Homo sapiens: one gene and its partners. The protein of the gene in region 1 interacts with the protein of each later gene in a biochemical or structural test. Each region holds a gene or a part of one and is shown on either strand. Other genes may lie near its edges. The genes, in order: MKRN2, CSDE1 and IGF2BP3.

Region 1 (7,718 bases):
GCAAGGACATGGTGATGTGGACCTGTTTAGTTTTGGTGTTTTTTTTTTTTTTTTTTTTTTTTCGGTGAGATAGGGTCTCACTCTGTTGCCCAGGCTGGAGTGCAGTGGTGCAATCTCAGCTCACTGCAGCCTCAGCCTCCTGGGCTCAAGCAGGAGCCTCTTGAGTAGCTGGGGCCACCAGTAGTGTGCGCCACCATGCCCAGCTAATTGGCTAATTTTTTTTGGTAGAGACAAGGTTTCGCCATGTAGCCCAGGCTGGTCTTGAACTCCTAGGCTCAAGTGATCCTCCTGCCTCGGCCTCCCAAAGTGCTGGGATTACAGGCATGAGCCACCGTGCCCGGCCTCAAATGTTCCTCTTTATCCTGGTTGTCAGCATGTTGATATTTTGCCTAGGAGTGGAGTGGTTTTTCTCTACGCTTATGTCACTCCCCAAGATGAGCGAAATTTTAGCTATTGTTTCATTAACTTTTTTTCTGTCTTGTTTTTTTCTTTTCCTGCTGGGACTCTACTTCCGTTTATGATAGTTTTTTTATATTGTTCATAGATCTCTGGGGATATTCATTCTTTTTCAATCTTTTTTTCTTTTCATCTCCTTGAACATAGTTGTAGCAGCTACTTTGAAATCCTTGTTATCTTGAAGTTGACCTCTGTTGTCTTTTAAGAATGGATCACATTTTCCTGATTCTTCGTATGTCTAGTAATTTTAGATTTTATCCTTGACATTGTAAATATTACATTGTAGAGAGACTTAGGATTCTGTTATGGTTTATCTGTAAAGTGATGATTTTTTTTTTTTTGAGACGGAGTTTCACTCTTGTTGCCCAGGCTGGAGTGCAGTGGCACAATCTCGGCTCACTGCAACCTCTGCCTCTCGGGTTCAAGCGATTCTCCTGCCTCAGCCTCCCGAGTAGCAGGGATTACAGGCATGCACCACTGCACCTGGCCAATTTTTTGTATTTTTAGTAGAAACGGGGTTTCACCATGTTAGCCTGGCTGGTCTCAAACTCCTGACCTCAGGTGATCCGCCCACCTCGGCCTCCCAAAGTGCTGGGATTACAGGCATGAGCCACTGCGCCTGGCCAAGTGTTGCTGTTTTTAACAGGCAGGTAAATTGTTTGAACTCAAACCCAGGTAGCAGTTCAGATCTCAGTTCTGGTTTTGCATTCGTAGCTGACTTTGTCGCATTCCTGTGTGGTTTGGGAGTTAGTCAGATTTGGGCAGAGTTTATACACAGCCTTTGAGCACTTTTTCACAGGCCCCTTACTTTGTGGGATTGCTTCCTCACTTTCCAATGGCTGTGATTTCCTTGAACTCTTGTCTTTTAGTTCTTCAGGCCAGAAAGATTGGATTTCCCCTTGGAGTTTTAGCCACCCCATGTGGTTATGATTTTGGCCTGCTCCAGGATAAGAGCTACTTCTTTTTTTTTTTTTTTTTTTTTTTTTGGAGATGGAGTCTTGCTTTGTAGCCCAGGCTGGAGTGCAGTGGCACAGTCTCAGCTCACTGCCACCTCCGCCTTCCAGGTTCAAGCACTTCTGCCTCAGCCTCCCAAGAAGGTGGGACTACAGGCGCATGCCGCCACGCCTGGCTAATTTTTGTATTTTAGTAGAGACAGGGTTTCACTGTGTTTCCCAGGCTGGTCTTGAACTCCTGAGCTCAGGCAATCCACCTGCCTCGGCCTCCCAAAATGCTGGGATTACAGATGTGAGCCACAAAAGCTACCTTTTTTAAAAAAGGTAACTTAGCCTTTGCCATTGCTATTCTTCTTTGTGTTTACTCCTCCAAAGAATCTAACTGCGTTTGTTCATTCTCTGGTGCCTTCAGGTCTTCTTGAAATATTTGTGTTAAGACTTATCTGCAGGAGGGTTGGGTATGGCAGGCGTTTACTTGTCATACTAAAAGTGAAACTATGCATTACCTTTTTTAATGGTTCCTTTATGTTGCATATTAGTTTACTAAAGCTTGATTTTTTTTTTTTTTTTTTTTTTACCATTTTTTCCTCATACAATCTTCCTGTGTGTCCACAAGAGGGCAAGGCGTGGCAAGCAGAGGGGTCCCAGCTTGTAGAAAAGGGCCCCAGCCTGTAGAAAAGGGTCCCAGCCTGTAGAAAGGGGCTCTGCTGAAAAGCAGTCTGGAGATTGTTATTGCTATTTGGATCTTTCCTTGCTTTGCTTTCCTTTAATGACTGTGTTTTTTGCAATCCACAAACATTTACTGAGTACTCACTATGGGTCAGGTACCTTCTAGCTAAGCACCACTGGGGGATGTAGAGATTAGTAAGACAATTTCTTTTTTCTTTCGAGTCTCGCTCTGTCACCCAGGCTGGCAGTGGCATGATTTCAGCTCACTGCAACCTCCGCCTCCAGGGTTCAAGTGATTCTTCTGCCTCAGCCTCCCGAGTAGCTGGGATTACAGGTGTGCGCCACGACACCCAGCTAATTTTTGTATTTTTTTAGTAGGGATGGGGTTTCGCCATGTTGGCCAGGCTGGTCTTGAACTCCTGGCCTCAGATGATCTACCCACCTCAGCTTCCCAAAGTGCTAGGATTATAGGTGTGAGCCACTGTGCCCCGCCAAGTAAGACAACTTCATGGGAAACTGCAAAAGGGCAATTATGATACAGGTTTGCTGGTGACCAGTTCTTCATGAGGGACCATCTATCACAACAGAGAAAGCACTTGGATCCACCGGGGGCTGCCAGGGGAAGCAGCATGGGAGCCTGAACCATGAAGCAGGAAGCACCTGTCTGTAGGGGGAAGTGATGGAAGGACATGGGCACAGAAGGGTGTAGGTTTTGTGTCTGGGGGACACTGGGAGTGGCTCCTGGCATTGAAACAGGTGTGTAGAAGGATGTGGTGGGACCTACAGACTGGAATCTAAGGGACACTTGAATCCCAGTGTGACCATGGTCTTTAAGAACAGGTTGGGGCCAGGCGCAGTGGCTTATGCCTGTAATCCCAGCACTTTGGGAGGCTGAGGAGGGCAGATTGCTTAAGTCCAGGGGAGACATAGGGAGACCTCATCTCTTTAAAGAAAAAAAAAAGGTTGGGAAGCTCCTCCGTGCTGCTCTGAAGGTGGAAACTGGTGGGAGTGGGAGGGAGGCCAGTGAGGAAGTGGCCCTGGCAGGCAGGCCCCAGAGGCTTCCACAAGTGTGGGAACCCAAAGGAAGGGGAGATTGGGAAGTGATTTGTAAACAGAATGAACACAGTTGGGTGTGAGAGCCGAGGACACAGAGTGAGTCAGAGTGAACTGGAGGCTTTTGGCCTTGGTGACCAGATAAGCCTGGGGGAGGAAAAAGAGTAATATTCTTGTGAGAGTGGGGGACCAGTATATAATGTGTTTGACCTGATCGAGTTCATAGCCAGTGTGCTAGGATGCTCTGGAGTTGTCCAGCAGGCTCTGGTGAGAGCAAACTGCTCACGGTCATTTGAAGTCCGCTCAGAACTCCAGGCAAGCAGGGGCCTGGAGGATGTGTCGTCCACACACCTGCTCTCCAGCCACCTGTGCTCAAATCAGATCAGCTGGCCAGGGAGCTTGTTCTCTCTCCCCCCACCCTACCCCCCCGCCACCACCCCCAGTGAGACGAAGTCTCACTCTGTCTCCCAGGCTGGAGTGCAGTGGCACAATCTTGGCTCACTGCAGCCTCCACCTCCTGGGTTCAAGCAATTCTCCTGCCTCAGCCTCAGCCTCCCGAGTAGCTGGGATTACAGGTGCCAGCCACCACACCCAGCTCATTTGTGTATTTTTAGTAGAGATGGGGTTTCGCTGTGTTGGCCAGGCTGGTCTCAAACTCCTGACCTCAAGTGATCCACCCACCTTGGCCTCCCAAAATGCTGGAATTACAGGTGTGAGCCACCACACCCGGCCAGAGGGCTTTTCTTTATGCTGCTATGAAGCCGTCCTCAGAGAACTTCACCACCGGCCTGCGGCCATCCCATCTGACAAGACGGAAAACCACTGGATTCAGGAGCCTCCTTTCCCTGTTCTTGTCTCCCGCTGTCACACACCCCAGCTGCCCCTGACAGCAGCGTGCCCTTTCTGTTGTTTGGCTTTATTTCTGTGACTTTCCCCTTCCTCTGTACTCCGAGATGGCCCTCTGGATTCTTGGGTATCTTTTTTTTTTTAACTTCAGTTTGGGATCCTTTATGATTGGATAAACCAGAGTTCATTTGAGCAAAATGGGAATTCATTTGATTGAGTTTCCTTGGGCAGGGTTCTTAACATAGAGGTCTGTGGGGAGAATGGTAGAATTAAGAGAGAGGGAAAACATTTTGAACTGTTTGGTCACTGTATGCTGTAGACCCATGTTTTATGCATTGAAAAACACTGTTCAGAGAAGGGGTCCAAAGCACATAAGGCGTGAAGAAGCCCTCCCTGGTGCCGAGGTTGGAGACAGGAAAACTGGAAGGAGACCTATGGCTTTAGGCAGTTGCTAAAACCCTCTGCTTTCCCTGTAGCCACCTTGACAGCACTGCGGCCAGGAGGAAGGGGAGAGTTGGCTTGGTGGGGTACCTAGGGAACTTTGAGCAGAGACAAGTGGCCCAGCTTCAGAGCTTAGTGCCCAGAGGAGTGACCAGGCCTGGCTTAGCTCTGTGGTGACCCAGGAGGTGCTCTGGAGCTGCCGGAGGGCCTGTGGAGCACTGCAGTCTCCACACAGCAAGTCCCCAGGCAGGTTAATATCCTTTGCAAGGCTGCAGGTAAGTGGGGATACTTCCTATCCTGCTTGGAAATCAGAATCCCAGCTGTGTGTGACCTGAGACAAATCACTCAACCTCTCCCAGCCTCAGCTGCCCCACCTAGAATGTGAGGCTGACCTACCTCTGGCGTAAGGGTGGTAAGGATGGAGGCAGGCAGTGGCCCAGTTTGGACCCCTCATTTTCCCACCAGCCTCTTGACTTTTTCTTTCTGCTTTTCAGGAAAAAAGCCTGTAAATACTTTGAGCAAGGCAAGGGGACCTGCCCATTTGGAAGCAAATGTCTTTATCGCCATGCTTACCCCGATGGGCGGCTAGCAGAGCCTGAGAAACCTCGGAAACAGCTCAGTTCTCAAGGCACTGTGAGGGTAAGGACTTTAGCCATCTCTAGTTGGGGACACTTAGCAGCTGTGGGCATTTCCAGGTACCGTTCCTGGCAGAGAAATGGGGTAGGCAAAAGAACGATCAAGGAACGCAGCCTTCCTGTTGCTCTTAGCAGTAACCAGGCATGTCCACTGGCTGTTTTTGCAGTTCTTTAATTCAGTGCGGCTCTGGGATTTCATCGAGAACCGAGAAAGCCGGCATGTCCCCAACAATGAAGATGTCGACATGACAGAGCTCGGGGACCTCTTCATGCACCTTTCTGGAGTGGAATCATCAGAACCCTAAAGAGTAGATGGTTGCCCTGCATCTTGGGCTCCATCGGCCGAAACTTTCCCAAGCCAGGGTGTGCGGAGCTTCCCTGTACTGCAGCCAAGGTGACGTGTGACTTGGATTTGAGTGGAGTTGGGCTTAGCCTTAGTCTCATTCAATCTCCATTATTACAGCCATGGGGAAGAGTGAAAGATATAAAGTAACCTAATTAAATGTATGGAATTGCTATTTTTATAGCTGATATAGTTACACCTCAAGCCCCTCAGGGGTAACAACTAACAAACACCCAAACTGTTTGGATTGATTGCTTTAAAAAACAAACCTGGCTCTTACCTTTGATCTTTTCTTCCCCAGAAATAGTAAACTTGCAGCTGCCCCTAATGCAGCATATTTTTCTTACCAAAGGAGTCTTCAGCCCTATAAAAGGATTCCTCTATAGTGTATTTCTCTAGTGTATTTAGTGTGTCGTCAAAATTTTGATTTATACAGAGCTTTCAAGAACACACAATGCAAAGTGAGCGCAGCATAGCTGTTAACAAACATACAACTTTTTTCTAGGGCTTTAAGGGTGGTCATTTTTTTCAAGTTCTCTCAAGTGTCCCAAATCAGGGTAGCAATCTTGTTGCCACATGTGCAGCAAACAAAGTGGAAGTATAGATCTTCTTCTCCCTTAGGGAGGCTCTTGAAGGAGCAGGAGGTACAGTACTGGGTAGCAGTCTGGCCCTCCTGTCGTCTGGTTGGTGTTGGGGCCTCCAGCCAGGGCCCTCTAGGGGAACCAAGCCTCTGCTCTCACCTGTGGGTTCTTGCCCATCAGGGTAATTGTATTGAGAACTCAAATATACGTGCACTTACATGTGTGGTTCGTACTCAAGTGATCTATTATCTAGCTGCAAAGCCTGGCTTTGATTTGAAATTTTGTAAAAATTTCATGGCACCCAAGGTTTCTGATTCTGACCCAGCAGTGGTCCTGAAGAGAGCTGATGGCAAGTCTTGTAGTCATTTTGATTTTAATTGAAGGGTGAGCATAACCTTGTGAACCAGCACTAGCTTGTTCCAAGCTGGAATTTATCTAATCTATTTTTGTGTTTAAAAAAGCTGTACCTACCAAATAAATAAATAGTTTATAAAATGTATTACTTAAGGTATTAGCTGAGTTTAGAGTACTTTCTGCTTAATTAATTTTTATACTTAACTCTTCAGTAGAGGTTTACAAAGAGTACAAAGGTTAAATTACAAATTCATTCCCAGCCTAGGCTCTGGGCACATTTCCTGTTCTTGAATTCTGCTCCTGAAGAGGGTGAACAAATGGGGCATTCAAGTTGTGAGCTCAGAATTACTTTAAAAGGAGGTAACAGCCAGCCATTACACCTAAATTTAATTTATTTTATTAAAATAACATAATTGAGGGACCATCAGATAACTGTATTTTGTCAGGTGCAATAAAAACAAAATTAAAACCCAAATCATCAAGAAAACCTGTATTCCTGGCTTCCTTGTATACACATGATGTGACTAGAGAAACAAGGCTGTTTGTTTGTTTGTTTGTTAGAGAAACAAGGCTGGCCCTGCGGCCCCGCCCCATAGGGGCAGCTCCTGGAAGACAAAATTCAGCATGATGGAAGACTGCTCCCTGAGAGGGCTGAGATGCGGATTGGCCGAGTGCCTTGCCTGGAAAACCATCCCAATGCACTGGACACCTTAGAAGCTGTGAAAGGAGGACGTGTCCCCTAAGAAAAGTTCCATAGTACCAAAGCAGGCTCCTTCGGGCGGCCAGAGTCTCGGCAGTCCTGGGCTGTTTGGTGCCTTATGTGCAAAATGTCTGGCGCTGCACCACTCTCTGAAGAAAGTCCCGCCTGTGACATGCATTCCTCCAGAAGCTGATTTCCAAAATCCCATGTGTCTCCACATCAGGGCTGGACTGCCTGCTACCTTACTTCCTCTAAATACTCATGTAGCCAACAGCTGGGGCTGGGCCCCTGCTTTTTGTACTACCATCAACATCCACTTGCGCATCTACAGAAGGCTGGGCCTTGAGCATGGGGAATGTGGGGAGGGAGCAGGACACACCAGCACTGCAAATGGCTTCCTTCTCCCAGGGCCCAAAGGGATAGAAAAGAAGGCAACATGAAGTTAAGGCCCTGTGAGCAGTCTAGAAGGTCCTTAGCAGCAGCTTCTCTGAAAACATGTGTTCTGCCTCTGGAGAAAGGGAGCAGAAAAGTGGTGCCTGCTGGCTTCTCCTCCTCCCCTGGCAGCCTGAAGACAGGTGCAAAGTCAACTAGAAGACAGGCAGCCTCGGGGACGTGGTCAGCGTGCAAGCATTGATATCCTCAGTGTGGGCTGCCCGATGCAAGGATGGCTCGGAAGCGCTCCGGTTG
Region 2 (11,591 bases), on another chromosome or scaffold:
ATTTAATCCTCAAGAATGCCCCATGAAGAGGTAACATTATCCCTAACTTCAGGATAATGAAACTAAGATACCAAGAAGTTATTTGGTAAAAATTACACAGGTATAAAGTGGCAGGGCCTGGATTCAAAAACTGAACTGTCTGGTTCTAAGAACCCTTACTTTCTATTTTTTTTTTTGAGACAGAGTCTCACTCTGTTGGCTAGGCTGGAGTACAGTGGTGCGATCTCAGCTTACTGCAACCTCTGCCTCCCAGGATCAAGTGGTCCTCCCACATCAGCCTCCTGAGTTGGTGAGACTACAGGTATGCACCACCATGTCAGGCTAATTTTGGTAATTTTTGTGGAGATGGAGTTTCACCGTGTTGCTCAGGCTGGCCTCGAACTCCTGGGCTCAAGGGATCCACCTGCCTCAGCCCCCAAAGTGCTGGGATTATAGGCATGAGCCACCACACCCAGTCAGACCCCTTACTCTTACACTACATTATACACCAAATGGCCAACTCTATGGTACCAACACAAAAAATAAGGTGGCACAGGCCTTTCTATTTCTTTTGGCCACAGGCTCTGTATATAGTAAGATCAGTGATTAACTTCAGTTTATATCTTGCCATAATTCTACCAATATGAAATCTGAACCTCAACAAGTATAATCAATCAATACTAAATGTTTTTTATTCCAACACCAAAGAATGGATGGTAAGTTAGCTGTAAAGTTCCTGAAAGTCACGCCTTACCTGTAATGGAAAAAGATTTCCTTATCATGATTGGCTGTTTCAATAAATCCAAAATTATCCTTCAGAGTTGCCACATAACCCAAGAGCCTCTTGGAGTTAGAATTACGACCTAAAAGTCGCACACAAGTTGCAACCTGCTGTCCAGGCCTCTGTTTGTCACTAATACTAAATTCAACCTGTGAAAATTAAGGATGCTCATTAACACCATATCACTTCCACACCAATCTCCTTAACTCAGAAAACAAGACCTATAACTCCCCCAGCGCATGCTTTTCATTCCAAATATCCTTTGTTATTACTTCAATGAAATTGATTTTCACCAAAACATTTATGTCTCATCCCACTTTTCACAAAGGATCAAACTTTTATCTTTCAGTCTGTATTCCTTATAGATTCTGAATTTCTCTAGAGGGCTATCCAAAAACCAAACATATTAAGTATGAGAAAAAATGAACAACAACGTAAAATCTTTGGTGTGCTTTTACTTTGATAATGTTTCAGTAGTAACTGTTTTAACTTTCTTACCAATAACGATTTTATTAAGCATGTTTTATCTAACGTTTAAACAGCTAGATTAACAAGGCTTTGATTAACAAAGAGCTTGACAGACACTTTTAATAAGCTGCTTTCAAATACAAGATATTCATGTATTTCTCTTAAACACAAAATATATTTCAGCAAAACTTGATAAAATTTGAAGAACCCATCCTGCAGGATTTATGATTAAGATGACAACTCTTAACCCTCTCTCGAATGAGCAGAATTATCTTGCCTTATCTCCTATTTGAGGAGAAGTAGATCCTTCCACATCCTTGGCTTGAAAAGCAATAGTCAGTTTCACCCCACAGTCATCATAAGCAATAATGCCATCCTCAGCCTCCTAAAGAGATACAGTCAAAAACAGAATGAAAACAATCTCAAGAACAAAAACCAATAAAAACAACTATAGTTCTTACATATTCTTGTGCCAAAGGATTGGTACAGCTGTAAAAATGTCTTATTCCAGCATTTTCTAAAAGATTATTCATATGAATAAAAGGTAGTCTTGCCTTAAGCCTAGCTCAGTCTGCTGTAATTTTTAATTGGTCTTTCAATCTTAAGAATCTAATTTTTGCTATTGAGGAGAAAAAAGCTTACTGAAAATGTTTAATACACCTGCGCTCCTCATAGCCAATCAGAAATTAAACTGGGCATGTTACTTCCAAGGAAGTGGAAATTCTATAAGGGCAAGAAGCTTTAGTATTTCCTAAAGAAGCTGCTGAAGTATCCTCTTTTAGTAGCACACAGCACCTTGCACAGTATTTAATATATAATGTCAATCAATATACTTAACAATGCAGGATAATTTGGTGTATGATCTAGCACAGTTCAAGTACTTGACATAAAGTAGATGATTAAAAATTATGACATACTAGTATTTCAACAATTTTTTTTAATACCAGACTTCAAGGAGAAACAACATTTCAGTCATCGTACGTGTAAGAATGATTAACTCTTAAAAAATCTAAGGGCTGGTCTGAAGGTAGTGGGTTATCTCGATTGTTCAGTCAGTTACAGATCGAACTTCCTTGTTCTCCTCTTTCCCCCCTTCTCACTACTGCACTTGACTAAAAAAATAAAAGTCTAAGAAAGTTCAGGTGTGTCGTATTGAATCACACCGTTAAGTAATGACAGTGTACAGCAACTACATAAATTATACTGATTTTATGGTTTCAACATTTCTATGAAGATAATGCCCATGTCCCTACTCTAGCCCTGACTTCCTTCCTAAACTCCAGTCCTCATTACAAACTACGATATATTCAAAACCAATTCATTTTCCTCTTCTACCAATCACATTCCTTCCATAACTGCTATATAATAATTTATTGAACACTTACAACATTACCAGGTATTATGTATTATCAAATTAATCTTGTACAAAATCATCTCCATAGTTTCTCTTTTCCCTCATTTTACAAATTGGGGAAATCTGAGGAATTAAGTAAACCTTACCAAGGTTACAAAACCCAGCGCAAAATAATCCAGAGGATTTGAGTTTGGTTAAGAACAATGTCAGTGAACTCAGGTCTGACTCCAATGTCATCAACTTTTCCACAACCAAACTCAAAAGCTTACTGTTCACCTTTTGCTCTTAACTCACCAACTTCAACATCAACAGCTGACAATATACTATACATCAAATATATTAAATAGAGATAGGAGAATCCCTGCCCTGAGGGAGTCCAGTGCAGCAGAGACAGATTCATTAACAGGTAAATGTTATATACTGTAAGAAGCATGATGACAGAGGATTTACTAGGGTACTGTTGGACTAAGAAAGAAAAAAAAACAAAAAATGGCAGGGAAAGTCTCACACAAAGGCTCTCTTCATCAAGCCAGTTTTGCCAGACACATTTGGGAAGCAGAGCATTCCAAGAATTAAAAGTTATTAAAAATAAGCCCAACTGAAGTGTATTTTTATTTTTGTTAACAGTATCATCTGTCACATGCGAAATTCCTATTATGAGCTAGGTACTTCGAGGGCTTTTTAAACTATTACACAATCATTTTTGAAATTTAAAAACTGAAGCTCAGAGGTGAAATAATTTCCCAAGCTACAGTAAGTGATAAGCAAGATACTAGCCTTGCTCTTTCTGGCTAATAGCAATTATTAAATTATAACATGACTTTCCAGTATCTCTCATGTACCTTCACTTGTCTATAGTCACTATCTGTGTGCCTAGTTCAAGGACTACCTTAACTATCCAAGTAATTTCATAGTAATCCTTTTCATCTTTTGTCTTTCTCCATCCCATCTAGGCTTCATATTGCTGCCATTACTCTCCCAAAGCACATACCTGATGTCATTATCCAAAAGAAATCTTTTCCTTGAAGTACAGAACAAGGTCTAAATTTTTTTTTTGGAGACGGAGTCTCACTCAGTCGCCCAGGATGGAGTGCAATGGCGCCATCTCAGCTCACTAAAAGCTCTGCCTCCTGGGTTCACGCCATTCTCCTGCCTCAGCCTCCCGAGTAGCTGGGATTACAGGTGCCCACTACTATGCCCGGCTAATTTTTTTGTATTTTTAGTAGAGATGGGGTTTCACCATGTTAGCCAGGATGGTCTCAATCTCCTGACCTCGTGATCCGCCCGCCTCAGCCTCCCAAAGTGCTGGGTTTACAGGTGTGAGCCACCGCACCTGACAATAAGGTCTAAATTCTTTAGAGCAGCAATCAACACCCTCCCAGTCTAGCTGGATCCTGATTTTTCATCCTTATTTCTCCTAACCTCCCTCACCAACAAAAACCCACACACAAAACCAAAAAAAAAAAAAAAAAAATTCCTGTCGGACTAGTTACTCATTGCTTCCTAAAGAAACCCTGAATTTTTCTCATCTATACTTTTACTCTGTGAAGAATGCTCTTTCCTGTCTCCATCTGTTAGTAAAACCATCACATACCCTACCAGTTAATTTTCACCAGAGCACTATCGCTGACCTTCAATAGCAATATTTTATATTCTATATGAATTACTTGTTTCTATAAAACTCTCAATTTGTTATTAACTTGAAAGGAGAATTCATCTCAGACATCTTTCTATTTCCTATTTAGTGGATTTTTCAATAAATGAAATTTAAATGTGTGAACTGAGGATACACCCAACTTTGAAAGTTTTAAATTGCCTGGAAGACAGTACTATCATTTTATATAACTAGTTCTCTACTTGGAATGAGTTTGCCTCCCAGGGGACATTTGGCAATGTCTGGACACATTTTTGGCTGTCACAATGGGAGGCAGGGAAAAGGGGTCAGAATACTAACTTCCAGTGGGTAGAGGCCAGAAATGCTGCTAAACATCCCATCCCCCACAGTAAAGAATCATTCATCCCAAAATGTCAATAATCCCAAGGTTAAGAAACCTTACTTTGTTTAGTTCACTGTTAATATGACAGAAATTCTGAAAGAGACAAACTTCCGCTGATTATATGTACTCTATTACTATGTGCTGTTAAAGCAGAAGAGAAATAAACAGCTACAAAAATCATTTGGATTATGCAAAACCTACCTTCTCTTTGCCTTTATTTGGGCTAGTGGTTTTAGGATTGGAAAAAGTGGCTTCTTTTTCTACCGTGCCCAGAAAACGGTGATCTGAATGGGAATGAAATGAAACCGTGCCCTTGGGAAGTTTTTTAATCCTAATAGCATGATTTCTTTGAGCAGAGAGCATATCCTAAAAATGATAAAACAAAATTAACTTTCAATTGAAAAAGAAAGCATCAAGAAACACCTCCCAACTTTTCTCAGAAACAACTCACAGGAACCACAGTAAACTCTACTTCATCTGCAATATGGAGCTGGTTCCCATCCAGAATTTCACTGAAGTGGAAGAACATACGAACATCACGATCCACACACTTGATGAAACCAAAACCATCTCTCATGGCAGCAATCACACCCTGAAACCCAAATAATATTTTCACTGGCTGTGAAACTTGTCAAGAAGGCAACATTCAACTTTACAACCACCATCAAGTTAAATTCATCAGGAATTTTCTCTGATGTGACACAAATACTGTATCCACATTTGAACTGTTCTCACTTAAGTACAAACTCATTGCTTTCAACAAAGTAACTTAACCTGAGCAATTTTCTAAGACTCTCCAATTGCTACTTCCTGGCAAATATGCACTAGAAAAAATTACCACATGTGAACGTAAACACGTGAACACAATGTATTTCATAAAAGCCCAAGTCTAATGACAATATAATCTCCAGAAACTTCACTAATTTACAGACCATAATTCCAAAGTAGACAAAGGCACTTCTCCAGTCTCTACCTCAAAAATTGCATGAGTTTAGGCCCAGGAAAGAGTTAAAATTTACATCTGAAGAATAAAATATATGCAATCTTTTCTCTTTTTTTTTTTTCCTTCTTACTAAATTATCAGCTTTGTAAGGCTTACTGTATCAAGAGTACCTGGAACATGGTAGATACTCATGTTTAATGAAACAATGAACACAAATTATCAATCTGCTATTGTATTACATACTACATATCTGCTCACTGCAGAAGTGATTCTGTAAGTTTTAAATATGACCTAAACAATATTTTGACATTTAATCCTTGCCAAGTCCTGACAGTAGCCAAGTTATATTTTCCATACCGTAAAGCAAAACAGATCTTGCCTTTGAAAATGTAAAAAAAAAAAAAAAAATCACACATTCAGACTTACAAACTTTTAAAGTTAAATACACTGTGTCAAATACAACCAGTTCTTCAAAGGCAAAGGATTAAAAAAAACTCAAGAAACTTAAATTTTCATTCAATGTACCCAGTTCCACTGGCAACACTGAGTTATAGTGTAGATGATATGATCCCAAACGTAACTAAATGCAAATTATGTCTGAGAAAATGAGTTCATAAAACATGTTTGGGAAAAAATCTGGTTGGTTTATGCCACTCCCAGACACAAACTCTTAAAAAACAATTTGTGAAGTTCTGCCAAAACAAAACCTTTTTGACTCTGGTTTAATTGCAAGCTTGTCCAAACCATGGCCTAGGACAGCTCTGAATGTGGCCCAACACAACAAATTGTTAAACCTTCTTAAAACATGATGAGATGTTTTTGCAATTATTTTTTTGAGACAGTCTTCCTCTGTCACCCAGGTTGCAGGGCAACGGCATGGTATTGGCTTACTGCAACCTCTGCCTCCTAGGTTCAAGCGATTCTCCTGTCTCAGCCTCCTGAGTAGTTAGGATTACAGGTGCCCACCGTCACACCTGGCTAATTTTTCTATTTTTAGTAGAGACGGGGTTTTACCATGTTGGCCAGGCTGGTCTTGAACTCCTGACCTCAAGTGATCACCCGCCTCAGCCTCCCAAAGTGCTGGGATTACAGGTGTGAGCCACCGTGCCTATGATTTTTTTTTTAAAAAAGCTCATCAGCTATCATTGCTGTTAGTGTATTTTATGTGTGATCTAGTGTCTAGATCATGGGTGTTCAATCTTTTGGCTTCCCTGGACCACACTGGAGGAAGAATTGTGTTTCCTAAAAACAGAAACCACTAATTAAATGTCTTAGGAAATAGTTTGGGAAAATCTACTTTCTACAATGATGAACTTGAATTTTCTTACTCTTCATATTAAGGGCCTGAGAATCACTGACTCTAAAAATATCTTAGTAATCCTGTCCAGATTTCCATTCAAAAAATTTTTTCACATATATTTCCAAGATAACTGCCAGAGATAACCCAGACTGACTCAAATGTGTATGATTCTTAATCACCTTAACAAGGTAAATGCCCATTAGGGTCATTTAACTTAAGAAAAATTTTAATTTAGTAGTATAAACTTGAATATAACATTGGCTTTCGCATATTAGATACATATCCAGTAATATCCAACACTTACCATTTCTCGGGCTTCATTAGTGAACTGAAATGTATTTGACAGAACTTCTATATTGGTTGCTCGCTCTAATTTGTCACGTCGGTCTGTTGAAATATTAAACCTAACATGGTCACCTTCCAGCAGGGTCACCTTGGATTTCGTATCTTTGTCTCCAAAGGGAAGTTCTTTAGGGATCACAAAGTCAACTTTGATGCGTCCTGGCAATGGGTCATTCTGATGAGAAGGAAAAACGATTTTAGCTGGAGATTTCTCATCCTTCCTAGTTCTAAGTCAAACAAGAAGAACACATAGTAAACCCATGTTATTTTTAACTTAGTTCCCTGAAGCGAAAAAAGGTGTTGACAACATAAGTCCAATGTGAAAGCTTCATGGTCTATGGTCACACGAGTCAACCATAAAATTACAACAATGCAATTAAGACCCAGCACTCTGGTACCAAAAGATTTTATTTAAGGAATTTTTCCAGGAATGACACCACTTGTGTCCTCACCTTCCCCACAAACTGGAGGGGTAGGGCAGGGGCAGAGGAGGGAACAAATGTACACCTGAACTGCAGTCTAATCCAATCAGGTGCTTTCCAATTTAATTAGCATTTTCTTCTTTGGCCTTTTTTCATCACCCAGTAAAAAAAAATACATATTTGGCTGGGCGAGGTGGCTCATACTTGTAATCCCAGCACTTTGGGAGGCCAAGGTGGACAGATCGCAAGGTCAAGAGATCGAGACCATCCTTGCCAACAGGGTGAAACCCCGTCTTTACTAAGAATACAAAAATTAGCTGGGTGTGGTGGCATGCCCTTGTAGTCCCAGCTACTTGGGAGGCTGAGGCAGGAGAATCGCTTAAACCCGGGAGGCGGAGGTTGCAGTGAGCCGAGATCGCGCCACTGCACTCCAGCCTGGCGACAGAGCGAGACTCTGTCACAAAAAAAGAAAAAAAAAAAAAAAAACACCATATTTATGAATATATAAATCTGGTTTCTCTTTTAGTTTAAATATACGTAACAAGAGGTCCTTAGTTGTTCCACTACCACATTATATTAACTGAATAAGATAAAATCTCAGTATACCACACCATATTATTCTATTACTACTGAGGCGAAATAGGACTCTCCTGAAAAAGATTATTTACCTGGTTTTTACTGGGTACTTTTGGGATAACTTTGGTTACAGTTCCTTCAAAATGTTCAATGCTGATATCTTCAAAAATGACTGTTCCTTGAGGCAATAGTCTGACATCTGTTGCAACTTCTTTACCCTAAATCAGAAGGGGTTGGAGGTGGTGGGGGGACAGAGGAAGGAAGAATCACATAATTTTAAGTGTTTCTTAAAAACATAAACCAACTCTGATCTTAAAAGGCCAAAGATCAAGTTAACTGACTGTCTTACATTTCTGTCCTTGATTGTGAATTCCACATCATCGCCAGGCTGTAAGGTTTCTAAGTCACCCTTAAATTCACTATAGTGAAAGAATATCTCTTTTACAACATCACCTCTTTCAATAAAGCCAAATGCCTCCTGAAGCAAAATAAAAAACCAAGAACATTATTACCACTCTGTACAAATTTATGATTACAACTTAAAACCAGTAATTTTTGTAAAATTATACTGTAGTCACAATAATATAATTTGGTACAACCTAATATTATCAATTAAACAGCCAATTTTAAAGAAGATAATGTATTAGCAACCAAGGAATTTTAAGAGACTACTTTTGAGGTTAACAGTGAAATATTTTAAAAGGGTAAGATAAAAAAGAAAAAAAAAAACAAAGGCTGGAGTTTGAAGTACAACATTTCAAGTGGCCAAAGAAAACTCAAGTTTCTCAAATTTAACACTTACCTTCATGGCACAAACTACTCCCTGACAGCGGGCTTGTTTCTTTTTCAACAGCATAATGTTGCGAGCACTTACAGCACCAGTACTAGAAAAAAAATAATTGCAGGGAGGAGGAATGAAACAGGGATTAAAAATGTATTGGCCTGCTTAGATATGAGTCTAAAGAAACTAGTTTCCTGGGGCTTTAAGAATTCTATCATCACTAAGAATAAATACAGGGTTTATGACATTTGATTATTTTCATATGGCTTTATATGCAAAGGACTTTAACTCCTTAGCCTTCTACGTTTGGCAAATATATATATAGGTCATCTTTCTCTGGGACTGTTGTTGGAAGATTTGCTTTTTTACAAACTTACACATGGGTGCGTGATGTTCTACTCTGTTTTTCTATTTCAACAAAATAACTGAAATAAAGCCACAAAGCGAATGCTACCAAAGGTGGGGAATACTAAAGTCTTATAAAGGTTATTCATTAAACAAACATTTGTGTAGGTATAATCTGCGGCAAAGTAAGGTACTGGTGATACAGAGATAAATAGGAGATGGTCTCTATTTTCAGTGAGTGCTAAATTTAGTAGCTATCTCATTAATTATTTCTGAGTAAACAGCCATAAAAGTTGAGTAAATGAAGTGACTTTAAGAGAACTTGCTATGCTTTTAAAAGTAATGATATCCACCTCCATTGGAGAATGGAAACAAGTTAGAGACACCACATGTTGCTTTTATGCCTTCATATTTGTGTAGCAGCGATGTAAATTCAATTTTGTTTTTAAGATAACATAGACTGTATAAGACATAATGGTACTGTTAGTCTAAATGTTTTAAGAAAAGACCTATACACCAAGCAATTACTTCCCTTAATTTTTCACAGACAAATAACCCAAAATGTGCTTTTTATTTAAAAAAATGTTACAGACTAACAAAGACACCAGAAAAATTCTACCTGTTTTTGTAACTTACTGCAGTGAAAACGCTTTAGAGTCAGATGGGAATTTAAATGCCTGCTATTTAAAAGCAGTATGAACATCGACAAGTAACTTTGTGAGAACTTATACGTCATTTTACAGATGAAGAAACTTACCAGGTAAGGCTGTTCTGAGATTAACAACTATATAAATTGAGGCCTTCAGACTGTAACTAATAATAACCACACCTACAACACAATCTGATTCCTTCAAGGCTTGCCAAGAAAGAGATAAGGTTCAAGGCAGATAATCCCAGACATGCTCTTAGGACTTTTCCCTCCACATGCTACTGGAAGGTACATTACTAGCACTTTCTCCAACTTTCTATTTTAATTTCCTTCTCCTCTTGCATCTCTCATCTCTCCTATGCCAAGATAAAAATAATATTCTCCCTGGGCTTTCTTAACTACATTTTCCTTAACTGTGTATGCTGATGAATTCTACAGCTCTATATACTTCCCCTATAGGCAGGAAATAGACCTTAGACTTAATAGGTCTAAGTCTCAGACCTATACACGCAACTGTAGATTTGATATCTCTACCCAGATATATCACAAACATCTCACACTCAAAAATTGCCAAGATAAGTATGATTCTTTTCCCACCTTGAACATTCTCCTTATGTCTCCTTAGCCCAGTTTATGGTACCATCATCTGCCCAGTAGGCCAGGCCAGAAAAACAGTATTTGGGACTCCCTTTAATTCCAACCCCACCTTTATCAAATCAATTAAGATTGATGATTCTATCTTCTCAATATGACTTGACTCCTCCACCCCATCCTCTTAGTCTATCCATATCAGGCGGTCATCTTTCACGTTAACTCTCACATCACTGCCTCTGGTCAACAGCATCCCCACCTTTCAAAAGTCTACCACTTCCACCACCTCCAAAGATCTAAACCAATCACACTTCCTTGTTTTAAACAACGCAGATTCCTACATAGAAGAATGCTCAAACTTTACCTTCTGGTCAGTTCGACCAAACTTTTGGCCATTTTCCCCCAACATGTCATGATACTTCTAATCATAATGCTTTTTTCTCACCTCTCTATAGTGACTATACCCCTCCCTCAAAACTTACCTCAAAGCACTATTTTTTGAAAAACCTTCACTGATCTCTAGAACAAGTCCTTAAAATGCCTAACAATGTTTTAATTATCATCTTCCTCTGAGACCCTGCATCATGGCTGTAATACAATATTCATAGACCTCAAAGCATTAGTTGATGAATTGAAAGTTCATGAAAACTATCCAGACTTACAAGTTAGGTTTTTAACTCTATTCAAATTTCTTAATGGAGGGGGGAAAAAAAAACCGCTTAGGTGAGAAAATTTAAAAAAAAAGAACTTACTGTTTATTGTTATCAATTACAAAGTTTATTTTATCTCCAGTTTCCAGCTGAACGTTCCCTTCGACATCTTCAGGGGTGTAAGTCAGATAAAACACTTCCTGTGAATTAATAAATCATTATTACTATTTTGGCAGGATGCATATTCACTGTATACTGTGATTTACTTACTTAAAAACCTCTTATACTGGCATTTTAAGCCAAATTTCTTAAAATTAAATGCTTTATGACAAGTCACTTTATTCATATAAACACACACTTCCCCTCCATGGTGCTGATGACTTCTGCGAGTCCACAGCTGAGCAGCAATCCAA
Region 3 (11,591 bases), on another chromosome or scaffold:
ATTATCAGGAGCAGAAAGCGGGAACTATTTGTTTTATTCACTACTGTAGCCCCAGGGCCAAGGCCAGGGCCCTGCTACATAGAAGGATCTTTTATTTGTCAAATGACTAAAATGACTGTATGTGAATTATGTTTGAAGCCTTTCATGTGTATCTAAGATACTTCTCAGTTCTCATGCATTATATGTTGTTTTGCTTTAGAAACCATACTGTTGTACAGTATGTGGATATTTTTTGACCCAAAGAAGCTTGGTGACAAACTCTTCCCCCCATACCTAGCTCCGTAACGTGCTACGAGGCACATCCTGTTACTACTGTATTTCCTGAAGAACCTGTGAGTGTGCTGGGAAGAAGAGGTTGTATCCAAAAATACCATTGTGCAAGCCTTGAGCCAGCTACAGAAGTGGCAAGATTATTTTTCCTTTTAAATTTAGAAAGGAGAATTCTTTTTTTTCAGTGTGATCCAACGAAATAAGCTTAATCTTTCTCTAAAAGTTAGAACTGCACTGCTGTGTATACTTTATGTGTTTGTTCCAGCAGGCCTAAGAGGACATGCATGTTCATCATAGGCACCATGCCTGCATTGGACTAGCTGACCCATTTCTCATGTAGAACCAAAAAGAACTGTACTGAGTGGTGGTCCATACCCACCTGCTCCCTGCAGTGGCATCTGATCCTGCCTTCCCCTGCTTTGAAGCAGGAGATGTTGGGTGCTGGTTACCTGAATGCAAAATTAATCGCCCTGACCTCATCATGTAGGAGTGGGAAAGACAACTGGACCATAACCTAGTCAGTCGGCCTGGCTTTAATCTTAAAATTTAAGGGCTTCTTGCTTCCCTTGATCCACCGTTACCTGCAGAAATTCATTATATGGCTTCCCTTCCTTCTCATGTAGCAGATTAGAATTGTTCCTTTTCGAGCTACTCATTTCCCTGTCAGATGAAAGAGCTGTGACTTAAATTGAACTGTTTGTTTTACTTAAGGCAGGAAGATGGGGATAGGGGAAGGGAAGCAATTTTTGTTATATCCGATGATTCATTTGCAGAGCTCTGCCAGTGGATTTAATTAACTCTTGACATTGAAATTAGTCATTATCAGAACCTCGTTTCTGGAATGGTCTCAGAGGGCCATTCTAATCTCCAAAGCCACATTCCTTTCTCTCAGGGGATCGGAGCTTAGTAATCCTTAGCACAGTGAAAGGGTGAAAATAAACTGCAAAGAGGGATGCTAATGTGTTGCTGGAAGACAGGCATCCCTGAAAGTGACTGGGGATTGAAACAGCAGCCGGGAAGATGACTCCTAAGATTGGGACTGTTATCTAAGACACTATTTTTTTATTAGTTATTTTTAGGTAGCCCTTAATTTGTTTCATGCCCTTATTTTTAGTTTTATCTTTTACTCTTGAGGTAAATCTTCAGATTTCAACCAAACATTTAGGAAAATGAAAGCCAAATCTTGATTTTATTGGCATGATCAAGTGGTCACTCTCATGGCCATGAGTTATTTAGCCCTTTAAGTGTTTGAATGGCCAAAGGAACTCAACAAATACTTAATTTTCCCAAAAACACATATTTTTGAGTAGCTAATTTTCTTTCTTGTACTTATTAAAAAATGGCAGGCTTATTTTATATTTAATTCAAAACATATAAATATGTAAATTAAAAAGTTACCATTCGTCTCACCTGGGTAGCTGTTGGTAAGTTGGGGATGTATCTCTATAGGATTTGTTGCCTGTATCTACTAACATGTGTGACTTTAAAAAAGAAATCATGTCATGATGTGAATTGCATTATTTCACTTAAGGACTTTTTACTGTGTTGGTACTTGTAATTTTACCACATTTTCAAAAACATCTGTATGATATGAATATACTGTTATTTAACCATCTCTTCCCGCAATTAGATAATTCTAATTTTCTATCTGTTAGAAACGGAACTTTCCCATGCCAGTGGTTCTCAACTACAAATGATCATCTCTCTGCCCCAACCCCCGTAGACATTTGGCAATGTCTGGAGACATTTTTAGCTGTTAGAGTTGAGAGAGAGGCATGCTACTAGCATCTAGTAGGTACAGGCCAGGGAAGTTAGTAAATTTCCTACAATGCACAAGACACCCCATCCACAACAAAGAATCTGGCCCAAAAAGTCAGTAGTGCCAAGGGTAAGAAACATCACTCTTGACCCATGTATGAGACTATATCTGTAGATGTTACCAGGAGTAGATGTTACAAGAAATACAGTTCTTGAGTCACAAGGTGCTCAGCATTTTGCTGACCAGTTTGCTCCTACCAAAAGTGTTGAGTGTGCCTTGTTACCCATCATCTTGCCCATATTTAATTTTTTCTATCTCAATTTTTGCAAGTCTAGAAGAAAATGACATTCTTTTAGCTGGCAGACATATAATTACTAGTGAAATTAAACATCATTTTGAGTTTATTGGCCACTTGCTTTTCTTGAAGTAGAATTGCCATCTGTCCAGGTTCCATTCCTATCACTGTTCGTTGCAGACTTTCCTCTATCAAGGAGGCAAAATGTGGGAAGAACCTTGCAAAGGGGAAGCAGATTGGTGAAATCTGCTCATCCAATGAATGAAGAATGATATACTGTGCAGAATAAGCAGTTCAACTTGGCTTATGGGATTCCAACTCCTCTCTTGGCATGCCCTCCAGTTCCTATTTGTTTTAGAGCAGATTGAATCCAGGCTCTTTGTCATGAGACATTTGTTCTGTGGCATCTGAAAGGAAGCTGTAAGCACAAACAGCTTGGGTAGAATGAAAAGATGTCCCCGCTTGGTTGGATTGAGGAAAGAGAAAGGGGAATGTTCCTAGAATTAAAATTTGCCTCTTAAGGCATTAATGTTGACAGCTTATTGAAAGTTTATGCTCTTGAGGGAAGTGAGTCATCTGCTTTGCCCTGAAGCCCTATGACTTTGCATTTGGTAATTACAGACTCCACTGTGAATACACGCTTACTGCTCTCGTTTTCCTCTCTGCTTGCGCCCACTATCAGAATCGATGTCCACCGTAAAGAAAATGCGGGGGCTGCTGAGAAGTCGATTACTATCCTCTCTACTCCTGAAGGCACCTCTGCGGCTTGTAAGTCTATTCTGGAGATTATGCATAAGGAAGCTCAAGATATAAAATTGTGAGTAAAGAAGATTGTCCTGTGAAAGAGGTTGATATTTGTGCTCTTGTATTTTTGACATCTCTGACACAATTCTTGGGAATTGCCAACAAACAGAGGGAAATGATATCCTGATGAGCTACAGTGGTTGGCACTGTTGATCTGGTTGTGAAGTGTATGTCTTTTAATATTTAAATATTTTCATTCACATTTGAACATAGGCGAGTGGTGATAACGGGGAAGAGAAATGCAGCTATAGAAGAAGGCAACTTGGGGAACCTAGGACCAGGAGGTATCCTGGATTAACCCAAAACAGGAGCCCCAAATCTTGACTCATCCTTTACTCGGAGCTCATTGGAGCTCTGTTCTTGTCCACTGCCTGGCCCCACCTTGGAGCAGCAGGGAGTGTGGAGGTGGGGAAGTGCCTAAGTCTCTTCTAAGGCAAACTGGAGATTTATCTGGGTAATGCAGGCGGGAACTCTATTTCTTCCACAGGAACTTTGAGTGAAGGTTGGGTTCTGTGCCACGTTTAGCGTACAGAACAGCGCTGCACTGAAAGTAGAATCGAGAGTAAGGCACTGGAGTTAGTGTGGGGACCTCATTACCAACCTTAATTTGTAGAGAACTTTAAATATGTTTTAGTAATATTATATGTGGGTGCCATATCATAAGAATGTAATTATTAAAGTAAAAATTTTAAAGAAGAATTATTTTAGTATAGAGAAAAATAGGCCTGGTGTGGCGACTCATGCCTGTAATCCCAGCACTTTGGGAGGCCGAGGCGGGTGGATCATGAGGTCAAGAGATCAAGACCATCCTGGCCAACATGGTGAAACCCCGTCTCTACTGAAAATACAAGAATTAGATGAGCGTGGTGGCATGTGCCTGTAGTCCCAGCCACTTGGGAGGCTGAGGCAGGAGAATGGCTTGAACCCGGGAGGCGGAGGTTGCAGTGAGCCGAGATCGCGCCACTGCACGCCTGCCTGGCGCCAGAGGGAGACTCTGTCTCAAAAAAAAAAAAAGAAAGAAAAAGGAAAAGCCCACCATCTATTAACCACAATGACATTTTAAACAGTTTTATATATATATGACTGGGAAATTCAGAAAGCTACAAAATGAAAAGTGAAAGCTCCCCTTCCTGTTCTTATGCCCTTCCCCCAAAGTGTAACCACTGTTGTTTCTTCTGTTTCCTTCTATAAATTATGCACATATCTCCAGGTGTATATTTGTACTGGATGGTACTGTTTTTTATTTGTACGTTGTGTTCTGGTAGTAGGGGTTTAGGAATATGGTTTTGAGTAAGAGACTCCATCACTGAAGATATTTCCTGAAGTGAATAAAATAAGAACTATTTTAGAAGTTAACTTCTGTATTTTTTCTCCCCTTCTATTCATGCATTGCTAGAATGCTGGCCAATTGTCAGCAAGTTTTAAGCTGTACCTAACACAGTGCTTCCCAGATGGTAGGTAGGAAGTAAATGTTTAATGAGTGAATATTGTCTTTTTACCCACGAATAGGTTTACTTATTCTAATTTTATGGCCACTTTTCTATTTACAGCACAGAAGAGATCCCCTTGAAGATTTTAGCTCATAATAACTTTGTTGGACGTCTTATTGGTAAAGAAGGAAGAAATCTTAAAAAAATTGAGCAAGACACAGACACTAAAATCACGATATCTCCGTGAGTGCTCCTTTGCTTTTGAATAAGAAAACTTTCCAACACTGTAAGCTGCATGTTGTGTATTGGGCTTAGCTTCCCACTTTACAGCTGCTTCAGCTAGCCTGTGCTGCCGTACTTACACATGGTTTCTCAAATACAGCTTGCTGCCTGTTAGGTTTCTGACCCGTATTGAAAGCATTATCTGCTTCTGGCAGGAGGAACCAAATGCTTTACATTCATGTTTTCTAAAGCAGTCTTAACTATGTTTTATGACATTTATTCCCAAAGTTGGAATATATAACCCAGTTTATTATCCATTGTCGTGTAACGCATTATCCCAACATTTGACAGCTTAACACAATGTGAACATTAATTGCTCAGCTAGTTTTTGTGGGTTAGGAATGCAGGAGCAGCTTAGCTGGGTGGTTCTGGCTTGGGGTCTCACAATGCTGCTGACAAGTTGATGCTGGCTGTTGGCAGAAGGCCTCAGTTCCTCCCACATGGGCTTCTCCACAGAGCTGCTTGAGTGTTCTCAAGACATGGCAGCTGTCAAGATGGAAACTGCAATGTCTTTTATGACATAGCCTCAGAAGTTATACTCTATCATTTTTCTAATGTTGTTTACACAAGTCAGCCCTATTTGGTATGTATGTGTGGGACTACAGATAACTGGGTGACAGGAATCACCTTGGAGGCAGGCTACCACACTTAGAATCTGTGGATGCTCTGAAATTACGTGGAAAGGTTTTTCTGAGGGTGGCCATTCTTAGTTTCACTCAGAGTACTCAAAAAGGTGGGAAAAGATTGATGAACTGAGGAAGAGTGGTAGGGGAAAGACTGCACGGTGTTTGTGTACAAGGAGTTTTCAAAGGAGGTAGTAAGGAAGCAGGAAACTTCTGTTTGGTTGTAAAGAAAGGGGGAAAAAAACCCCACAAAGTGGTAAATTCAATAAGTAATACTACTTTGTCTTAAATTTACCCCCAGAAAGGGGAGAGTTTTAAAAGAAAAAAATCTCAAAAGTTATTCTAGAAGCAGCTATTTTTAAAACTGTAATACAAAATGCTTGGCAGGGCCAGGTTGAGACTGAATTAGAATTATAGACTTCTTTTTAAAGTAGTCTAAGAGAAATAGTCTTCATTATACAAATGTTTACATTTTTAACAAGTTTGAGGAAAATGTTAAGGAATAACTTCCCATTCATCTGGCTCAAGGTTAGCCTGTGACATTATACTAGTAGTGAAAATGAGAACTTCAGGAAGATGAAGGAGATTTGTACCAATAATCCATATCCTCTCAATTTATGTACTTAGTTCTGTTTTCCATGGCACATGTCTCCCATTGCTTTTCCTCTCAAGGCTGTTGACCAGCATAGGCTTAGGTGTTTTCAGGTATGATATTCAGTGGCTTTTGAAGGTTCAGCAGGACCTAGGTCCCGCAGGGAGTTTCTGAATATTTCTGCCACTATCTAACGTTTTTGTTATCTAAATGGCATCGGTGAACCATTTTAAATTTTAGTCAAGATGGATTGATATTCCTCCAGCCTACTTCAATCTAAATTCTAAAGAAACTGGTAAAAACTAAGTTTAGACACAGGAATTCTGGCTTGTGTTTTTGGAATATTTCCATGCTTTCTCCTTGCTTGGTGACCCAGAAAATGCAATTGCACGAGAATGCCAATTATGCCTAGAATTGGTTAATACAGACTAGGAACATACTTATGAAAGGTTATGTACTTAGGGTATTTGGTTTCCTCAAAAACTATACATCTTTCCAGTCATTTTTTAATTCACTGTTCAATTGTGAAAATGGTTCAACTTTAAGCGGTTGAGAAGTAAGCTTTATTTAAAATATGGACTTGATTGAACTATATGTATCCAGTAATCGTTAGTTGAGAAAATGGGAGGGCAAATATTTTCTTCTCTCTTGCAGCTTTACAGTTTCGGATTTACGTCTTTTGGGGCTTACTCATTTCCCATCATGTTTTACCACCCACTTTTACATATTACCAGGCTCCACAGTTTGTTTTTAATTGCCGTCTGTGGCTGAATTATTAGCTGTCTTCCTCCAATTTTCATTCTTTTTCTTTCCCTTCTTTTTCATTCTGCAGATTGCAGGAATTGACGCTGTATAATCCAGAACGCACTATTACAGTTAAAGGCAATGTTGAGACATGTGCCAAAGCTGAGGAGGAGATCATGAAGAAAATCAGGGAGTCTTATGAAAATGATATTGCTTCTATGAATGTTAGTTTTGTTATGAAGGGCATGTCTTTATTTTAACAAATAGTTAAAACAATGTTTTTAACTGCATTAATATTGAATTCTTTTGTGGCATTATCACTAGAAGTAGTTCTAGTTGATTTTTAGCACCTCAGCAAGTACCCTGGGATAGTAGGGAAGATACTGGCTTTGACATTAAGCTTTGCTGTCTCTGTGACTTTAGCAAATTATTCAGTCTTTGAGCCTTAGCTTCCTTCTGTCTGAAGTAAGGCTAGTGTCTACCTACAAAGGTTAATATAGTACCTCTCTTACAATGTTAATTTGAGAGAGTTTAATATAGAAGAAATGTTACATGAACTGGATTTGAATCACAGCTGAACCATTTATGAGCTGCAGCTCTCTTCTCTTATATGATTTACTCAGTCTCTCTGAGGCTCAGTTTACTCATCTGTAAAATGGGACTACTGCCTACCTTGCATTCTTATTAGGATTACAATAGATATAATGCATATAAAAGTTAATGTTAAGATTACAGGTTTAAAACTTGGTTAGCCATATAAACCTTGGAGATACAAGAATTTCAATTGATAAAACAATCTGTGTAGTGCATCTGAGGCTATTAAAGCAAATTGCTGACATTCCTTAATCAGTGAAATGGTGCTGAAAATGGAATACTTCAAAAGCCTGTCTTAAATTTTAAAGTAAATGACTTTAAAAAATAATTTTTTTTCAATTGGGCCAGTCATCTGAAACACAAAACCTGAGACGAGGGAAATGTGCAAATACTGCGTTTGTGAGAAGAGCCTAGAATGCTAGCCATTTTACACCCCACGTGACTTCTTGCCAACCTGCTTCAATTCTCACTGCTTGGCTCCAAATGTTCTGGAATCAACTGGGATTAAATCTAACCCCCTTAGGCCTTTTAAAAAGATTTTCAAGTACACTCAAATCTCCCTTCCACCGTCTACATTACGTCCTCAACCCTTATAAAATTAAACAAATTAAAATACCCTTTCTGGCTCCTATTTCCATTCCAGTGATATGTTTACTTGCAGTAGTTACATGGGGATGGGTCCTGATTTCCAGAGGGCTCAACTTTGAGGCCTCTAGACCCATGGTTGCTAAGTTTTACCCAGCAAGTAAAGATCTCTTAATAGCTGGTTTGCTTTTCAATGAACCAATCTTACTTGATTACCTCTTCAACTCTGATACATTGCTTTTTGTCTATATTTAGTTTGCCCACAGCATGCAGAATACGGTTTTGTCTAAGTCCTGTGGGCTAGTCATAAGGGAAAGGAAAGCTTCCCTTGAGATATCTTAATGCAGCTGTGGACCAAGGAGGGGGCAAACCAGCACACAGATTTTAAAATACCAAGGGATATAAACAGATGTAAACGATGTACTCAAGTAGAGTCCCATGGAACATCTGCTTTGAGTTATACAATCATTTCTTTATTAGACAAGAGATCAGTTTGAATACTGTCACTTAAAAATGCTCACTTTCCCTTGATTCTTTTAATTGTCAAATTAAGGGGCCTTTTTACTGTTGCAGCTTCAAGCACATTTAATTCCTGGATTAAATCTGAACGCCTTGGGTCTGTTCCCACCCACTTCAGGGATGCCACCTCCCACCTCAGGGCCCCCTTCAGCCATGACTCCTCCCTACCCGCAGTTTGAGGTAAGATAACTGGCCTTGGCTTTCTTTGTGATTGGGCAAAATCTTAATGTAAACCTAGTCCCCGCGTGATCATCTGTTTAGATGCCAACATATGCTCTCCAGTTCTTGCTAATGGAGCCTTCTTATTTGGCCCTTTGTGGAGTAGACATGGGATTATTTTGCAGTTTTTGGATAGCGGGGTTGTCAACATGTGTTTTCAAATATCACAACAAAAGTTTGGGACTTTGAGGTGGCAGGGGAAGAAACTTAGTAATTGTTTTTCTTATTTAAAAAAATTTTTTTTCTTTTTTCTTTTTTCTTTTTTTTTTATTCTAAGTTCTCGGATACATGTGCAGAATGTGCAGGTTTGTTACATAGGTATACATGTGCCATGGTGGTTATTTAAAAGTTTTTGGAGACACAGTCCCACTCTTTCGCCCAGGCTGGAATGCAGTGGCACAATCTTGACTCACTGCAACCTTCACCTCCCGGGTTCAAATGATTCTCATGCCTCAGCCTCCTGAGTAACTGGGATTACAGGTGTGTGCCACACCACACCCGGCTACTTTTTTTGTATTTTTAGTAGAGACAGGGTTTCGCCATGTTGTTCAGGCTGATCTCAAACTCCTGGCCTCCAGTGGTCTGCCTGCCTCGGCCTCTCAAAGTGCTGGGGTTATAGGCGTGAGCTATTACCTGGCCAGTAATTATTAAATACTAAAGGAAAAGATTTTTTAAAGGCTTCTTTCATCTTTGTCACCTGAAGTCAATGGCTTTGAAAGGTCAGGAGTGACTCTGTGTGTTTTCCATGTTGAGTGTACTTTTTTAAACCAAAGAGATAAGATAGTTTTGTGCACAATTATATTGTGTGTGTGCGTGCATACATTAAGCAGATGTTTATTTTGTAAAGAGGTAGGTTATATAAGAAATAAATCTTAGGCCAAGTGCCATGGCTCACACCTGTAATCCCAGCACTTTGGGAGGCCGAGGCGGGAGGATCACCCGAGGTCAGGAGTTCAAGACCAGCCTGGCCAACATGGTGAAACCCCATCTCTACTAAAAATACAAAAAATTAGCCGGAGTGGTGGCAGGTGCCTGTAATCCCAGCTACTTGGGAGGCTGAGGCAGGAGAATCGCTTGAACCCAGGAGGCAGAGGTGGTAGTGAGCTGAGATTGCGCCATTGCACTCCAGCCTGGGCGACAGAGCGAAACTCTGTCTGGGAAAAAAAAAAAAAAAAGAAAAAGAAAAAGAAAGAAATATTTTATACTTGCTTTTTAAGAATAGCAGTTTCCTTGAGGTCAGAAATAGGAGACTAGTGATGGTATGAAAATAATCGCAGCACAGCAGACACCTGATGGAATAAATTATTTTGAAAGTAGTTAATAATTCAGTTGCATTATCGATAATCGGAGGTATTCATGTGACATTCTAGGATCTTCCTTCATGAATTTGTTTTGACATCTCTCCCTTTTTGTTTGGCTCACTTACTTAATATTAATATTTTGAGTGATACCTCTTACACCAATTTGGGGAAATGTCCAGGTGGAATAGGTTGGTGATTCCACTGTATTACTACCTAGAATAAATATGTAGAGTAAAATGACATTGAAATTGTACAGAAAATACAGATGGCTCAGATTGTCCCCCTTTTATCCTTTTAAAAATGAAAATTTCCTTTTCCTGTCCTTGAACCCACCAAACTGATTGGGGTTCTAAGCAGTTGCCCTCCTGCCGTGTGTGTTTCTGCCTTTACTGTCAGCAGCATCTTGTCTCCCCTGCAATTCACCTGCCGTTTCTAGTATGTTTTGGCCTGGAAATCATGTAACAGAATGATAGCCATCAAAATTTCAGCTACAAGTGAAGTGTGCATAGATTCATTACGTGCCCCCTGAAGTGGCTGGCATGTTTTTACTTTGATGCTAAAGGGGACTGGTAGAAAGAACCCTGGAGTCAGAGCCCAGGTCTGGCCCACTGCCTCTGACACAATTTTGTGTCACTGAAGGTCAGACTCCTTGGCTCTGGATTTGTTTTCTCACCTGTATAATAAAAAAAACCTGAACTATAAGAATTGTGTCTAAAGCCTTTAAGGTCACACATTTCTAGTTTCTACAGAATTAAATAATATGAAAGGTTTAAGGAGGAATAGGGGAGAATGAGCCTAAAATAGGAATCTGAGAGTACATCTAGGGACTTAACTTTGAACATGTCCACTAGTTTATGTGTGTGTCATAGGATTGGTTTAGGGCAGGTGTGTCCCCAACACTTCTGTATAAAATGACACTTACTAAAAGGTACAATGAGCTGATCATGTGACGTAACTCTGTGCTAGGAAAGCTCGCATCTAACCCACATTTCTGCTGGTTCCCCTAAATTAGCTTTCTCTCTGGGTGGGTTGCTTAACCTCTCTGTTTCATTCCCAGTTTGTAAACTGAGGTGTCCCTTTAACTCTTTTTTTCTCTCTATACTGGTGACATGTTCCAATCAACAAAGCTTTTCACATTACAAGTGATCACAGAATAGAACATTCTTGGACATCAGTCTTTTACACTTACATGGATGCTTCAGTAGCCAAAATTCCTAGAGTGAACTTGTAGGTAACTATTTTTAAAATATGTAGATAAGACTGCATATTCTCTGGATTTAGTCATTTTTCTGACTTATGGTATAGTTCTGTGTATCAGGTTCCTATGTTAGAAAAATTAAGAATGCTTTGAGAGAAGTGAGATCATATTAAGAACTTATATTTCTCCAGCACTTCTACAGTCTTAAATGTCTGAATGACTTAAATCAGTGGCAGTTTTGTTTTAAGAATGGGAGGAGGAGGTCGGTGATGTTTACTTAAATAAAAGTTGAGCCAAGAGTAAATGTAAGGAAGATGTCACTGGAATAGGTCATCTTGCTTCTCCTGTCATTTAAGCTAAATCAAATAGGTGCAAT

What was found.
Region 2: the proteins of MKRN2 (region 1) and CSDE1 form a complex in vitro, tested with the Homo sapiens proteins (one study listed by BioGRID).
Region 3: the proteins of MKRN2 (region 1) and IGF2BP3 form a complex in vitro, tested with the Homo sapiens proteins (one study listed by BioGRID).

What each region holds. Positions count from the first base shown.
Region 1 is NC_000003.12:12,576,896-12,584,613, forward strand, and holds the end of MKRN2 (E3 ubiquitin-protein ligase makorin-2), read left to right. Parts: intron 1-4,912; coding exon 4,913-5,057; intron 5,058-5,220; coding exon 5,221-5,358; 3' UTR 5,359-6,818; downstream 6,819-7,718. Other genes in the region: RAF1 (RAF proto-oncogene serine/threonine-protein kinase), read right to left, coding at 7,619-7,718. UniProt on the Homo sapiens protein: E3 ubiquitin ligase catalyzing the covalent attachment of ubiquitin moieties onto substrate proteins.
Region 2 is NC_000001.11:114,725,478-114,737,068, forward strand, and holds part of CSDE1 (cold shock domain-containing protein E1), read right to left. Parts: intron 11,379-11,591; coding exon 11,281-11,378; intron 9,047-11,280; coding exon 8,965-9,046; intron 8,641-8,964; coding exon 8,512-8,640; intron 8,381-8,511; coding exon 8,255-8,380; intron 7,340-8,254; coding exon 7,127-7,339; intron 5,172-7,126; coding exon 5,031-5,171; intron 4,946-5,030; coding exon 4,781-4,945; intron 2,344-4,780; exon of another isoform or gene 2,243-2,343; intron 1,614-2,242; coding exon 1,506-1,613; intron 910-1,505; coding exon 734-909; intron 1-733. UniProt on the Homo sapiens protein: RNA-binding protein involved in translationally coupled mRNA turnover.
Region 3 is NC_000007.14:23,339,150-23,350,740, reverse strand, and holds part of IGF2BP3 (insulin-like growth factor 2 mRNA-binding protein 3), read left to right. Parts: intron 1-3,006; coding exon 3,007-3,141; intron 3,142-4,678; coding exon 4,679-4,801; intron 4,802-6,887; coding exon 6,888-7,023; intron 7,024-8,551; coding exon 8,552-8,677; intron 8,678-11,591. UniProt on the Homo sapiens protein: RNA-binding factor that may recruit target transcripts to cytoplasmic protein-RNA complexes (mRNPs). This transcript 'caging' into mRNPs allows mRNA transport and transient storage.